Linked DNA regions of Homo sapiens. The protein of the gene in region 2 purifies or fractionates together with the protein of the main gene of each other region. This does not show direct contact. Each region holds a gene or a part of one and is shown on either strand. Other genes may lie near its edges.

What was found. The genes of interacting proteins can lie anywhere in the genome.
Region 1: the proteins of PDK1 (region 2) and LRRC37A2 purify together in Homo sapiens (affinity purification with mass spectrometry; one large-scale study listed by BioGRID and IntAct). This does not show direct contact.
Region 3: the proteins of PDK1 (region 2) and VWA8 purify together in Homo sapiens (affinity purification with mass spectrometry; one large-scale study listed by BioGRID and IntAct). This does not show direct contact.
Region 4: the proteins of PDK1 (region 2) and PDHX purify together in Homo sapiens (affinity purification with mass spectrometry, with the first as the bait; 2 studies listed by BioGRID). This does not show direct contact.

What each region holds. Positions count from the first base shown.
Region 1 is NC_000017.11:46,511,294-46,515,267, forward strand, and holds the start of LRRC37A2 (leucine-rich repeat-containing protein 37A2 isoform 1 precursor), read left to right. Parts: upstream 1-1,174; 5' UTR 1,175-1,419; coding exon 1,420-3,974.
Region 2 is NC_000002.12:172,604,590-172,608,089, reverse strand, and holds part of PDK1 ([Pyruvate dehydrogenase (acetyl-transferring)] kinase isozyme 1, mitochondrial isoform 2 precursor), read right to left. Parts: 3' UTR 1-3,500. UniProt on the Homo sapiens protein: Kinase that plays a key role in regulation of glucose and fatty acid metabolism and homeostasis via phosphorylation of the pyruvate dehydrogenase subunits PDHA1 and PDHA2.
Region 3 is NC_000013.11:41,951,110-41,954,609, forward strand, and holds part of VWA8 (von Willebrand factor A domain-containing protein 8 isoform a precursor), read right to left. Parts: intron 1-3,500. UniProt on the Homo sapiens protein: Exhibits ATPase activity in vitro.
Region 4 is NC_000011.10:34,958,118-34,961,617, reverse strand, and holds part of PDHX (pyruvate dehydrogenase protein X component, mitochondrial isoform 1 precursor), read right to left. Parts: intron 1,199-3,500; coding exon 1,100-1,198; intron 1-1,099.

The DNA.
Region 1 (3,974 bases), on a different chromosome or scaffold from region 2:
TAAAATAATTATTTTAATTCAATTTAAATAAAACCCACCAAGGAGACTTCAAGCTTTAAGAAGTCTAGCTTCCTGTGAAATGTGAGAGGAAGTCAGCACTCATTTCAGAAATCTGATTATAACAATAGCTCCATCCCTAAATGAGGTGAATCTTGGAATCTCTTCCATTTTATTTTATTTTATTTTTTTGAGATGGAGTTTCTCTCTTGTTGCCCAGGCTGAAGTGCAATGTTGTGATCTCGGCTCACTGCAACCTCTGCCTCCCAGGTTCAAGCGATTCTCCTGCTTTGGCCTCCTGAGTAGCTGGGATTGCAGGTATGCACCATCACACCTGGCTAATTTTGTATTTTTAGTAGAGACGGAGTTTCACCATGTTGGTTAGGCTGGTCTCGAACTTCTGACCTCAGTGATCCCCCCACCTCGGCCTCCCAAAGTTCTGGGATTATGGGTGTGAGCCACCACACCCGGCCCCCCTTCAATTTTAAAGCCATCACTATGCACCCTATGTCTATGCCAGGCACTAAAATAAGATGAAGCACCTTCTTGGAGTTTACATGCTGGTAATTATGCCAGACAGTAATAAAATAGGTAAGAACGGCTGTGGGGGAAGTCAGCTGGGTTCTAGTTACAGTCGCATTTCAGGAAATGATTTAACATGCTGACTTTAACAACCTAAGCCTCTTCTCCATGTGTGCACACAGGGTAGATCTCTGAACACAGGTGACCCTAGAAGTGCTGTAACTTCTAGGGGAATGGCTGTGTTGAGTCAAGGCAGGATGACAGTTCAGCCTCCTCCCAGGCTAGTGCAAAGGGCTCTTCACTCGGATTAAAACCTTCTCTCCCAGACCGAATTGCCAACTCCCAACACCCCTCCTACAGAAAATGTGGAGTCCTCGCTTATTCCCTGGCAGCCCCTACCTAATAGGGTGGTGAATTAATTATCAAACATGCGACAGTTTAGCGAAAATGGCAACACTTTGGAATAAGTGACTGTAATGTGCATCCTGGCGCCCATTTTGCAGGTCAGTTGCTCTCCCTGGAAGGAAGAGTGTTCTCGGATTTCACCTTAAAGGAGGAAGGCTGCCAGAACTGAACTAGCACTTCTGAATATCCTGAGGCGAGGTCCGGTGACTTCCTTGGGAAGCTCTGCCGCGCCCCCACCCCACCCTACCCCACCCTACCCCACCACAGCAGGCGCTGGAGTCCTGGGACCACCAGGGTCTGAGGCCCAAATCCTTCCTCACTAAGGGGAGGAGAGGGGTGTTCCGGCAGGGCAGGATGGGAAGGCGTGCTTGGGCGGGATTGTGACATAAGAGTGCCCTGGTGACATGGAGCAGATCTGTGACATAAATAAAGGTGTCATAAAGACAGGGCGGGGCTCACGCTTAGAAGGGGCACGAGCGTCTCGGAGCTGCCAGAATGTCTTCTGCTCAGTGCCCGGCACTAGTGTGTGTCATGTCCCGGCTGCGTTTCTGGGGCCCATGGCCCCTCCTTATGTGGCAACTATTGTGGCTACTAGTTAAGGAGGCTCAGCCTCTGGAGTGGGTCAAGGACCCGCTCCAGCTCACCTCTAATCCCCTGGGGCCGCCTGACTCCTGGTCTTCCCACTCCTCCCATTTCCCACGGGAATCTCCCCATGCGCCTACTCTCCCAGCAGACCCGTGGGACTTTGATCACCTGGGGCCCTCTGCTTCCTCAGAGATGCCAGCCCCACCCCAGGAATCGACTGAAAATTTGGTTCCATTCCTGGACACCTGGGATTCAGCTGGAGAGCAGCCCCTGGAGCCAGAGCAGTTCTTGGCTTCACAGCAGGATTTAAAGGACAAGCTGAGTCCACAGGAAAGACTCCCTGTTTCGCCCAAGAAGCTGAAGAAAGATCCAGCTCAGCGTTGGAGCCTTGCTGAGATTATTGGAATTACACGCCAATTATCCACACCTCAGAGTCAGAAACAGACTTTGCAGAATGAATATTCCAGTACAGATACACCGTATCCCGGTAGCCTGCCTCCAGAACTCCGGGTGAAGTCAGATGAGCCTCCAGGGCCCTCTGAGCAAGTTGGACCTTCTCAATTCCATCTAGAGCCCGAAACTCAAAATCCAGAGACCCTTGAAGACATCCAGTCCTCTTCACTCCAGCAAGAAGCCCCAGCACAGCTTCCACAGCTCCTTGAGGAAGAACCTTCTTCAATGCAGCAGGAGGCCCCAGCTCTGCCTCCAGAGTCCTCTATGGAGAGTCTAACTCTACCGAATCATGAGGTGTCAGTTCAACCTCCAGGTGAGGATCAAGCTTATTATCACTTGCCCAACATTACAGTTAAACCTGCAGATGTGGAGGTTACCATAACTTCAGAGCCTACCAATGAGACAGAATCTTCCCAAGCCCAGCAGGAGACCCCAATTCAGTTTCCAGAGGAGGTGGAACCTTCTGCAACCCAACAGGAGGCCCCAATTGAGCCTCCAGTTCCTCCTATGGAGCATGAACTTTCCATCAGTGAGCAGCAGCAGCCAGTTCAGCCTTCTGAGTCTCCTAGGGAGGTCGAATCTTCTCCGACCCAGCAGGAGACCCCAGGTCAGCCTCCAGAACATCATGAAGTCACAGTTTCACCTCCAGGTCACCATCAAACTCATCATTTAGCTTCACCCAGTGTCTCTGTGAAGCCTCCAGACGTGCAGCTCACCATAGCAGCAGAGCCTAGTGCAGAGGTGGGAACTTCTCTAGTCCACCAGGAGGCTACAACTCGGCTCTCAGGGTCAGGTAATGATGTAGAACCTCCCGCCATCCAGCACGGGGGCCCACCTCTGCTTCCAGAGTCATCAGAAGAAGCTGGACCTTTAGCAGTTCAACAGGAGACTTCATTTCAATCTCCGGAACCTATTAATAATGAGAACCCCTCTCCAACCCAGCAGGAGGCTGCAGCTGAGCATCCACAGACCGCTGAGGAGGGTGAGTCTTCCCTAACCCATCAGGAGGCCCCAGCTCAGACTCCAGAGTTCCCTAATGTAGTTGTAGCTCAACCTCCAGAGCATTCACACCTGACTCAAGCCACAGTTCAACCTTTGGATCTGGGGTTTACCATCACTCCAGAATCCAAGACAGAGGTTGAACTTTCTCCAACCATGAAGGAGACCCCAACTCAGCCTCCTAAGAAAGTTGTACCCCAACTTCGAGTATATCAAGGGGTAACAAATCCAACACCAGGTCAGGATCAAGCTCAGCATCCAGTGTCACCCAGCGTTACAGTTCAACTTTTGGACCTGGGACTTACCATCACTCCAGAACCTACTACGGAGGTTGGACATTCTACACCCCCGAAGAGGACTATAGTTTCTCCAAAGCATCCTGAGGTGACACTTCCACATCCAGACCAGGTTCAGACTCAGCATTCACACCTGACTCGAGCCACAGTTCAACCTTTGGACCTGGGGTTTACCATCACTCCAAAATCCATGACAGAGGTTGAACCTTCTACAGCCCTGATGACTACAGCTCCTCCTCCAGGACACCCTGAGGTGACACTTCCACCTTCAGACAAGGGTCAGGCTCAGCATTCACACCTGACTCAAGCCACCGTTCAACCTCTGGACCTGGAGCTTACCATAACTACAAAACCTACTACAGAGGTTAAACCATCTCCAACCACGGAGGAGACCTCAACTCAGCCTCCAGACCTGGGACTTGCCATCATTCCAGAACCCACTACAGAGACTAGACATTCTACAGCCCTGGAGAAGACTACAGCTCCTCGTCCAGACCGGGTTCAGACTCTGCATCGAAGCCTGACTGAAGTCACAGGTCCACCTACTGAACTAGAACCTGCTCAGGATTCACTGGTGCAGTCTGAAAGTTACACCCAAAATAAGGCTTTAACTGCACCAGAGGAACACAAGGCCTCCACAAGCACCAACATATGTGAGCTCTGTACCTGCGGAGATGAGATGTTGTCATGTATTGATCTCAACCCAGAGCAGAGGCT
Region 2 (3,500 bases):
TACTTACCTTTTTGCATCAAGGGTCTCAATGTCAGTCAAGTATTAACTAAAACTGTTATTAATAAACTTTATTATTCAGATTTTTACCTTTTACTACAAAAACTGCACACTATCTGATACTGCTTGGATAACTACAGTCTAACACTGAAACACAGCTCCTTTTAAAAATATCATTTCTAGATCACTGCCCAGGAAATGTCTTGGAGTGTAAGTATACACTGAGTATGGTGTACTGCTCTGAACTGGAAACTGTAGGTTCCAGATGCCAGTTATCAACACTACTCTGCTCCTAAAGTTCCCCTATCCCCTGCTCCTTTTCCTTCCCCTGCTGCCTTCTGGTCCTTGCATCCTTGCTGCTGCTGAGCCTGTTCCCCTAGGACCGACTCTGCTACAACCAGATACAGGGTCAGCCTCCACTCTGAGTTTGGCCAACCTCCTTCCTAGTACCATTGTTTTGGGTTCACCATCACGATACCATCCCACTCCATTCTACTAGTTAGAAAGAACACAGAGCTTGGCATGATGCAACAACCTGTAGCCGTAGTGGTTGCTAAAGCAATGACAGTTGGCTTGTCTCAGGGTAACAGCAAGTCTTATTTTGGTTTGAGTCAGGCCCTGGAGTGGCAAAACAACTGGAGACATGTTGAAGCCATCATCCTTGGCTGGTTCAAACTACATCTTAGAGAACAGAAGGAGTTTTAGAAAGAACTGTATATGAAACTTAGCCAATTATATTTTCACAATTGTTTGATTCTATATTAAAAAAAATCAAAGCACTTACTATTTCAAATTTTTGTTTTAGAAGCAACCTCGCTCTGTCACCCAGGCTGGAGTGCAGCAGCACAATCATAGCTCACTGCAGCCTGGAACGCCTAGGTTCAAGAAATTCTATCACACCTCAGCCTCTGGAGTAGTTGGGATTATAGGCGTGAGCCACCATGCTTGGCTATTTTGGATTTTAATTTTGGACTCAAAATGTAAGCATGTTGATGTTAGTCTTTGGCTGGTTTAAAACATTCCTTTGAAGACAATATGCCTGAGAGCTAATTTAGACACAAACTGTTTCTAAAGGCTTACTCTTTTATATTTCCACCCTTATATAATCATACCACTGTAGAGAAAGATCCCAGGAATAAGACCCCAAAGCATGCTACAAAAGTGGCATGATAGAGAAACTACCACTGTTTAATGGGTGCAAGGTTTCCTTTTAGGGTGATAAAAATGTTTTGGAACTAGACAGAGGTGGTGATTGCACATTGTGGATGTACTGAATGACACTGAATTACACTTTAAAATGGTTAGTTGTAGGTCATGTGAACTTCAACATGAAAAAGGTTTTTTTTTTTTTTTAAAAAAAAAAGGAAAGAAAAAATAAACTACCACCATTCTCTCTGCTACCACAGAGCACTAAAATCTAGGAATTTGACTTTACTGCAGCCATTAACACCAGCACTGATGCCACTTCTGTATCAGGAACTTAACCTGACAACCATGAAAGGTCCTCTGAAAGCCAGATGATACATATGGCAAAACTCATGACAGCATATGGACAACTGCACAGAACTTGTGCTTCATGTTGCTGAGTGCAGATGTTTCTAATTACCGAAGTTACTGTCTGCCTCCTAGCAGCAAAAGAGACTTGAGGAAGTAAGGTTCATAACATGGAGGTTCACTAAAGTATAGAAAGGCCATTCAAAAGGTTGTGGGCTTCCACAAAAATGGTAAGTATTCATTACATCCTCCTAGCCTTCTGTGGATGCCAAGAGTTTGATTAAGTTCTAAGAGAGAGGAGATCTTCTTTACCTTCCAGAGGATGCAGGCAAATTGGCTTTGCTAAAGCACCCAATGTCTGCTTATGATCACTATACTCTCATCAATACTTCCCAGGTCTCCAGAATTAGGACAGTCATTTGTTGTTAAATTAGCTGTATATTTCTCCCAGCGATCATATTCTCATGAAGCCTGATCAACGACTGACCCATTTGGTCATAGGACTATGCTATCCAAGAGAGGACCCAGTGATGCCACCACTGAAGGTATCTATGAAATTAAATGGTTTTATGTCTATAATAGTACAGAGTTTTATGGTCACGCAAAGTATGTATAAAATCTGGCTCATGGAGTTTGGGAAGAATAGTGATTGGACTGCAGAAATTATAGCATCTATCAGGTTTGGGGGAGGGGGAGTTGTGGGGGTAGTAGTTAGTGAATATCAGCACGCTGACCTTTTCAAACAGGTGGTAAATGTCTTTCCACAGATCCTGCCCCTATGTTGGTCAGAGAGAAGCAAAGTAGGTGAATTATTTTCCAATAATTAATATTAGCATAAATGGGGCAAACATGAAAATGAAAATCTAAAGAAACCCACTCAGCACAGCTTTCATGAGCTCAGTGCCGACTCAAGATTTACAGAGAGGCTGAGCACGGTGGTTCATGCCTGCTATCCCAACACTTTGGGAGGCCAAGGCAGGAGGATCACTTGAGCTCAGGAGTTCGAGACCAGCCTGGCCAACACGGTGAAACCCCGTCTCTACTAAAAATACAAAAATTAGCTGGGCATGGTGGCAGGCACCTGTAGTCCCAGCTACTTGGAGGCTGAGGCAGGAGAATCACTTGAACCCAGGAAGCAGACGCTGCACTGAGCTGAGATCACACCACTACACTCTGGCCTGGGCAAAAGAGCAAGACTCTGCTTCCAAAAAAAAAAAAAAAAAAAAAAAATTACAGTGTAGACCAAACCTGGACAGTCTAGTTAGCTCCACTCACATATCTTTAAGCTCAGAGGCTCTTGAACGCCTATGTGTCCCACCCAGAGGCCTCCAGTGTCCTTGACTGTTCATAGTGGAATAGAAGGAGGCATTATGGTATTTGGTTCTATCTCTTGTGCCTCCTGTTGACTGGATCCTCACTTAGAAATAAAAGACTGACACAACCCAATGGATGGGCTGGGGTAAGATGCCAAGGAGAGTAATATAGGTGTGTCACTAACTAAATGGGCCAACCAAGCCCTGTGCCTCCTTCTTAAAATGGGGAGTCTATAGAGGGAAAAGTTTTCTCTGAGAGCCTCAGGAATGTTAAGCCTGGCATCTACAAATGTATCTTTGGGGCTGAGATCTTGAATCTTATACTTGCTTAATAAGCCATTTACTGCCTGCCATTTGGAAGATAAGAAAGAAAAGGGCATCAGAGATCAATGCCCCTAATGATAGTTGGATAAGAACATACCCAATATAAAGCTCCAAAATAATCTCGAAACTAGAAAAGTAGTCTGGCCACATCATATTGTGGCACAAAACAGTAACACTCAAGCAGCCCTGGACTGGGCCAGTGAAATTTTACTGCTGACCCTTCCAAGTCTAAATGGAGAGGGCTAGACAAGAGGGCAAAGTCAAGTTCATGGTGTTGCCATTGGACATACTGCCATTTACTCAATTATGGACACCACATCAAAGACCAAGTGAATAAGGTGGAACTATGTTACTTAGCTATCTCTAGTCCTC
Region 3 (3,500 bases), on a different chromosome or scaffold from region 2:
CCCAGTGGCATAAATGCCAAGAACTGGCCAGGTGCAGTGGCTCACGCCTGTAATCCTAGCACTTTGGGAGGCCAAGGCAGGCGGATCACTTGAGGTCAGGAGTTAGAGACCAGCCTGACCAACATGGTAAAACCCCGTCTCTACTAAAAATACAAAAATTAGCTGGGCGTGGTGGTACGTACCTGTAATCCCAGCTACTTGGGAGGCTGAGGCAGGAGAATCGCTTAAAGCCAGGAGGCGGAGGTTGCAGCAAGCCAAGATTACGCCACTGCACTCCAGCCTGGGCAACGGTGCGACACTCCGTCTCAAATAAATAAAAAATAAAAGCCAAGAATTCCTACATGAAATAAGCAAAAGCAGGCAAAAGTTTTCAGTAAGTTCTATACAGTTCTATTTTTTAATGTAACCTTAATTTCCGAGTGATCTTCTAAAGCCGAGGACTAAACTGAATAATCTCTCCCCGCTGTGCTCTCTCTAACAGCAAAATAGGCATGGTGATACCATTTGCATCTAGAATTTCATTTGGAAAGGGCTCAGAGACACTCCAAAAAAGTAGTCGTGCAAAACTCATCTTTCAGCACTGCCAGTTTAAAGCTAGCAAGATACCTTGAACACTAAGGCCTTAAATCATGGTACTAATAACAATAGCCAACATTTGTTGAATGCTTACTACCTTCTAAGTATTTTTTGCATTCTCAAAATAATCCTATGAGACAGAAATTTTACAAATGAGAAAATTTGTAAATCCATAACAGAGTTTTTAACAGATAAAGAAATTTATTACAGGTATGTGGTAAATTGAGAGAGGAAGATAAGGACTACACACAAAGCTAAATCCCTGCTAGGTCCAAAACTGGCAGCCAGAAAAAAGCAAGGCAAAAGATGATGAGGACCAAAATTCAAAAGCCTGCAAAGCTCCTCCATAACCCGTGCACCGCTCCCTTTTCCTCCCCTGTCCAATTAACTCTTTGTCTTCACGCAATCTATCACAGAGATTCTCAAAGCATCAACGTCACCTGGGAACTTGTAAGTCATATAAATCTTCAGGCCCCACCTCAGACCTACTGAATTAGAAACCCTAAGGTCCAGCAATCGGTGTTACAATGAGCCCTCCAGATGATCTCTAATGCATGTTTGAGATCATTTGGTCGTTTAAGTTCTAACACCCTCAAAAAACAGGTGGTCAGCAGTGCCTCATATAGTACAATCTTAGTTACTGCCAGGTATTGGTTGACTGGTCATCTCGCCCTATTTTCCTTAATGCAGGAAAGAACCTATAAATTAGCTACTTTCTACAGTAGCTTTTCTTTTAAAAGATAAGCTTGCTTACAAATATAAGTGATATTATCTACTGGCTTTTATTACAGAGTAGTTTCAAGAATTATAGTTACAGTATTTTCAAATAGGATGTCTTTACAAATGTTATTTCACTTCCTGAAAAGACTGTAATTATTTGGCCTCCTGACAAAATGATACTGAGTAATTAATCTGAACATAAGAAAAACGTTTTCAGGCACAGGTTCTCATTACAAACATTCCCTGAGTGTTAGAGCTGACCGACATCATCCTTCTAATAAATAATCTAGAAAAAGGGCAGACTATACAAATTCATGGTAACTTGACAATTGGCTGTCCATTTTTTTTTTAAAAAAAGTAAAATTCATACCTCACATTTCTGAAAGACAGTACATTCAAACTGAGTAACTGAGGAGAGTACAAAAAGGGAACTATTTACAAAGGTATAGCAGAGTTTACGGAAACCAAAAAAGATGGTGCAGTATCCTAGGACTAGCAATAACAGAAAGTCATTACCGCCCCTAGGCCTGAAGGGGCAAGGGGAGAGAGCAAGCAGAGAGGGTCACTGTGTTAGGAAGCCTCCTTCTGGGTAACACAGCAAACCCATAATGGTGACCTGGCAGGGAGGGAGCTGGGAAATAAACATGAAGCAAAAACGGACAGAACTAAAAGTGGAAATAGAAAAATGCACAATCACATCTAGATATTAATAGCTTTAAGTAGCTCTCTTGGTAAATAATGGAAGAAGTAGGAAAAAATAAAGAAGGATACAGGATAAGGATAATTTTTTCTCAGCCTTCTGGCAAAGACCAAGTATAGACGTAAAGAAAGAGAAGATTGGAAAACATTATTAATCACTTGGCCTAAATGACATTTATGGAACACTACACCCAACAACAGAATGCATATTCTATTTATTATTTATTTAAGTATTACTGCAAGTATGTTTTTATTTTCTCAACCTATCAACTGAATATTGTATTTTATAAAGCACTTTTTAGTATTGTAATTGGTTCCTCATGATCAGAATGCATATCCTTTTTAAATGCACATGGAACATTCACCAAAATAAATTATAGGCTGGACCATAAAGCAAGTCTCAAGGAATTTAAAGATGAGACCAGGCACAATGGCTGGTGCCTATAATCCCAGCACTTTGGGAGGCCGAGGTGGGTGGATCACCTGAGGCCAGGAGTTTGAGACCAGCCAGACCAACATAGTGAAACCCCATCTCTACTAAAAATACAAAATTAGCTGAGCGTGGTGGCTGGCACATGCCTGTAATCCTAGCTACTTGGGAGACTGAAGCAGGAGAATTGCTTGAACCAGGGAGGCGGAGGTTGCAGTGAGCCGAGATAGCGCCATTGCACTCCAGCCTGGGCAACAAGAGTGAAACTCTGTGTCAAAAAAAATTAAAAAAGAAAATTAAAGGATGGAAGTCATAAAGATTATGTTTTCTTACCACAGTGGAATTAAACTGGAAATCAGTAACAAAAAGGTAACTGGAAAATCCCCAAACATTTGGAAATCAAGCAACAGGCTTCTTAAAAAATCCAAAAAATAAATCACAACGGAAATTGGACTCATTGGGAAACAGGGTGGTGATCAATGAGCCACATCTGCAATAGACAAAAGGGAAAAGTTATGACATTCATATGGACCAGGCATCTGCCATCTCTGCCTCAAACATTGATGTTCTTGGCCATCTTCTGTTACTACACTACACTTTCCTCAGTCATTTAATCCATACCAATGTCCCAACTCTGACCTCTATACAACCTTTTTTTTTTTTTCAGTTAAGGGTACTCTTCAAACACCATATACAACTAATTCTTTAAATGTCTATTTTGGCTCAGATCTCTCTCCTGAGTTTCATACCTGCCAGTAGCCTACTGGAGACTTTACCTAGATATTCCAGAGACAACTCAACAAACACACAGAAACAGAATTCTATATTGTCCATTGTGTGCGCCTAACCACCTCTAACCAGCTCCACCTCTTGTATTCCTATCTCAGTGACTAACACTTTATCTCCTCAGCCTAGAAGACCTTCCACATCTCTCTCACACCACTTGCCCTCTACACAACTACTACTGAAATATCTTCATCTCCCCATTGAACCTTCCCTAACTTTTCCTCTAGCACAAATTGATCACTCCATTAGTCTTTCTGCTAGCACAGGATCTGATTTATGCTTCTGTAAT
Region 4 (3,500 bases), on a different chromosome or scaffold from region 2:
TAACCCAGTGGAAAAAAGAAAACATTGCCTGGCCCAACACTGCCACTTATAATTTAACAACCATTGCTCTCTCTCGACTTACAAAAATTCTGGCCAATATTATTTTTTATTTCCTATCAATATTAGATAAATATGGAATGAGTACATTGCTTTAAAACATAAACTCAATTTGAAACATTTACTATTACTGCCAATAAAAATGTAGCACATAACACTACTGAAATCTTACATTAGTTCATAAGCCTATTTGATTAATCTTTGTCTACCCTACTAGACTAAGTTTCAACAGAACAGGGGCCATCTGTTTTGAAAGACACAAACATTTAAACTAATGGAAAGACACAAACATTTAAACCAGTGTTGCAGAACAGAAAGACCCATCATGATAAAGATGTCAGTTCTCACAAAGTTAATTTAAAATGTGATACAATCCCATAAAAATACCCCTCACTCCTACCCATGGAGCTAGACGAACTGCTTAAAATTCATTTGGAAGAATAATAAAATAAGAATGAACTAAGAAAACTGATTTAAAAAAAGAGCAAAGCTATTGTTATCAGATTTTAAAGCATACAATAAAACATTTCTAATTAAAAGTGTGGTACTAAAAAAGTATGGTACTAACTCATGGACAGATGGATCAGTGAAATAGAAAAGAAAATCTAAAAAGAGACCAAACTGTATATGGAAATTGCTTTATAACAGCACAAGTGAATAAAATTCAAAGGGATAATGAAAATAATTTTTTAAAAATATATTTCCTTGTTTTAGAAATGTAAATGTTATTGCATGATTTCACATATTTAATACTGTATAAAGTTTCACTGTTCTACGCTCTAATTTTCTGCATTTATTACCACTTCTAAGGATCTTGCTTAGTTACCAAATTAGAGCTGTTCTTCAGTAATGCTATAATTATTCAGAAAACAACTCTTGCATAGAATACAATTTACAATGATAAAAGCAATTAAAAGTACAAAAGAAGAACAGTGTACCTCCTTTTAAATCTTAAGACTGAATAAGCTCTTTTTATTTTCTTTCAAAAAAACATGATCATAATAAATAATGGAACTGGTTATTACAAAAAGCAAACACATACTCTTTAGTGAATATCCCCCGAGGGCCAGTGGCTGTGCCCTGGCTAGCATCCAGTGAGTGTTTTTCCAGAATATTGCGGGCAGCTGGACTTAAACGGAACCTAAGAAAAAAATATGAAGGTTAATAGAACCAATTAACACTTACATTTGATTCAAATAGATCTAAATGTCAACAGTTTCGCAAATAATTAAAAAAAAATCTTATAATAAAGCTAAAATGACTCCCACAGATGGTCACAGTCAAATAATCTGTACCAATTTGGTTTATTTTATTCTTTAAACACTTTCGTAAAAATTTAGTTACTATTTCTAAATATGATTTTAATAAGAATAAATATTAATTAGGGGAAAGAGCTGCTATTTCAACTAATTACTTTCACATGGGTGCTCATCACAACTACCAATTGTTTCCTTCGTATATTTTGTTCTATCATTTCTTCATATATTTTGTATTGTGGCAAATGATACCTAAAATTTATCATTTTAAGCATTTTTAGGTGTACAACTGAGTGGCATTTAGTACAATCACACTATTGTGCAACCATCACCACCATCTATCTCCAGAAATGTTCATCTTTCCAAATTGAAACTCTGTATCTATTAAACAGTAACTCTCCATTCCTCCTTCCTCCCAACCCCTGGTAACCATTCTCTTTGTCTCTGTCAATTTGACTACTCTAGGTAACTCACATAAGTAGAATCATACAGTTATTTGTTTTGTGACTGGCTTATTTTACTGAGCATAATATTCTCAAGGTTTATCCATGCAGCATTTATCAGAATTTCCTTCCTAAAAAGCTGAATCACATTTCATAGCATTTTGGACTTATGAGTTGTTTCTACCATTTTGCTACTGTGAATAATGTTGCTATGAACATAGATGTACAAATATCTCTTTCCAGTCTTTGCTTTCAGTTATTTTGCATATATATCTGGAAGTGGACCTACTAGATGATATGGTAATTTTAATTTTCTAAGAAACTGCCATACTGTTTTCCACAGTAGCTGCAGCATTTTACACTTCCACTAGGCAACAACAAGGGTTCCAAATTATCCATGTCCTTGCCAACACTTGTTATAATCTGGGTCTGGTTTGGTTTTTGTTTGTTTGTTTGTTTTGATACTAGCCATCCTGAAGGGTATGAAGGGGTGTCTCATTGTGGTTTTGATTTTCATTTCCCTAATGGTTAGTGACGGTGAACATATTTTTCATGTGCCTGCTGGCCATCTATGTATCTTCTTGGGAGAAATGCTATTAAAGTTCTTCACCTGTTTTTTAATTGGGTTGTTTTGCTGAGGTTGAATTGTATGTATACACAATTATATATATTTATTATATATATAGGATACCTCAGATTACATGACTAATGGTATATCTCTTGTATGCAAAGTAGTAAACAAATTACTACATGGTCAGATAAAGAAAATAAGCCTGATTAGTACAGATTAAAACAGGCTGGATCTAGAAATTAAAGCTAAGAGACAGAAACAACTGTGGAACTTGCTGCATTTCAGGGAAGTATTAAATAACTCTGATATGGGCCCAATGTTACTAAATCTTTAGATTTTTCAAGAGAATCTGAAATTTTAGATTTTTATATAGGATTAGTAACCAACCAACCAAAAAAAAATTTTTTTTTCATTCACTGTGTGCCCAACAGTATGCAGAGTTCACAGGTCAGTAGGTTTTTAACCTACACAGTGGGGCCTGATTCATGCGAGTCTCTGATGATGACTGATCTTAATTAGGGTACATACTATTATTATCTTTGCAAGGGCAGAAGACCATTAGTTAGAAAGCATCAGTGAGACTGTCTTCCAATTTTTAGGGTAAATGAAAGAGGAGACAGTAAATGGGAGTCAAGGCAACAGAGTCAGAAACACTGCACTAGGAATTTAAAATCAGTACTTCAAAAAGCAGGCCAGGCGCAGTGGCTCACGCCTGTAATCCCAGCACTTTGGGAGGCCGAGGCAGGCGGATCATGAAGTCAGGAGTTCGAGACCAGCCTGGCCAACATGGAGAAACTCCATCTCTACCAAAAATACAAAAAAATTAGCCAGGCATGGTGGCACATGCCTGTAATTCCAGCTACTCAGGAGGCTGAGGCAGGAGAATCGCTTGAACCCAGAAGACCGAGGTTGCGGTAAGCTGAGATTGCACCATTGCACTCCAGCCTGGACAATGAGATCAAAACTCCGTCACCCACCTCCGCACGCCCCCCCCTAAAAAAAGCACTGTGGATTCTTTTCTGACAATGATAAACTAAAGGAAAAAATGTTTAAGAATGAAGAGGTCTACTTTATGAAGATCTTTTTCTCGTAAAGAAAAAGTAATGTTGTATAATTATATAGAATACTAAATAAATGAAATGTTAGAATTTACAGAGTTCTTCTATTAAAGCA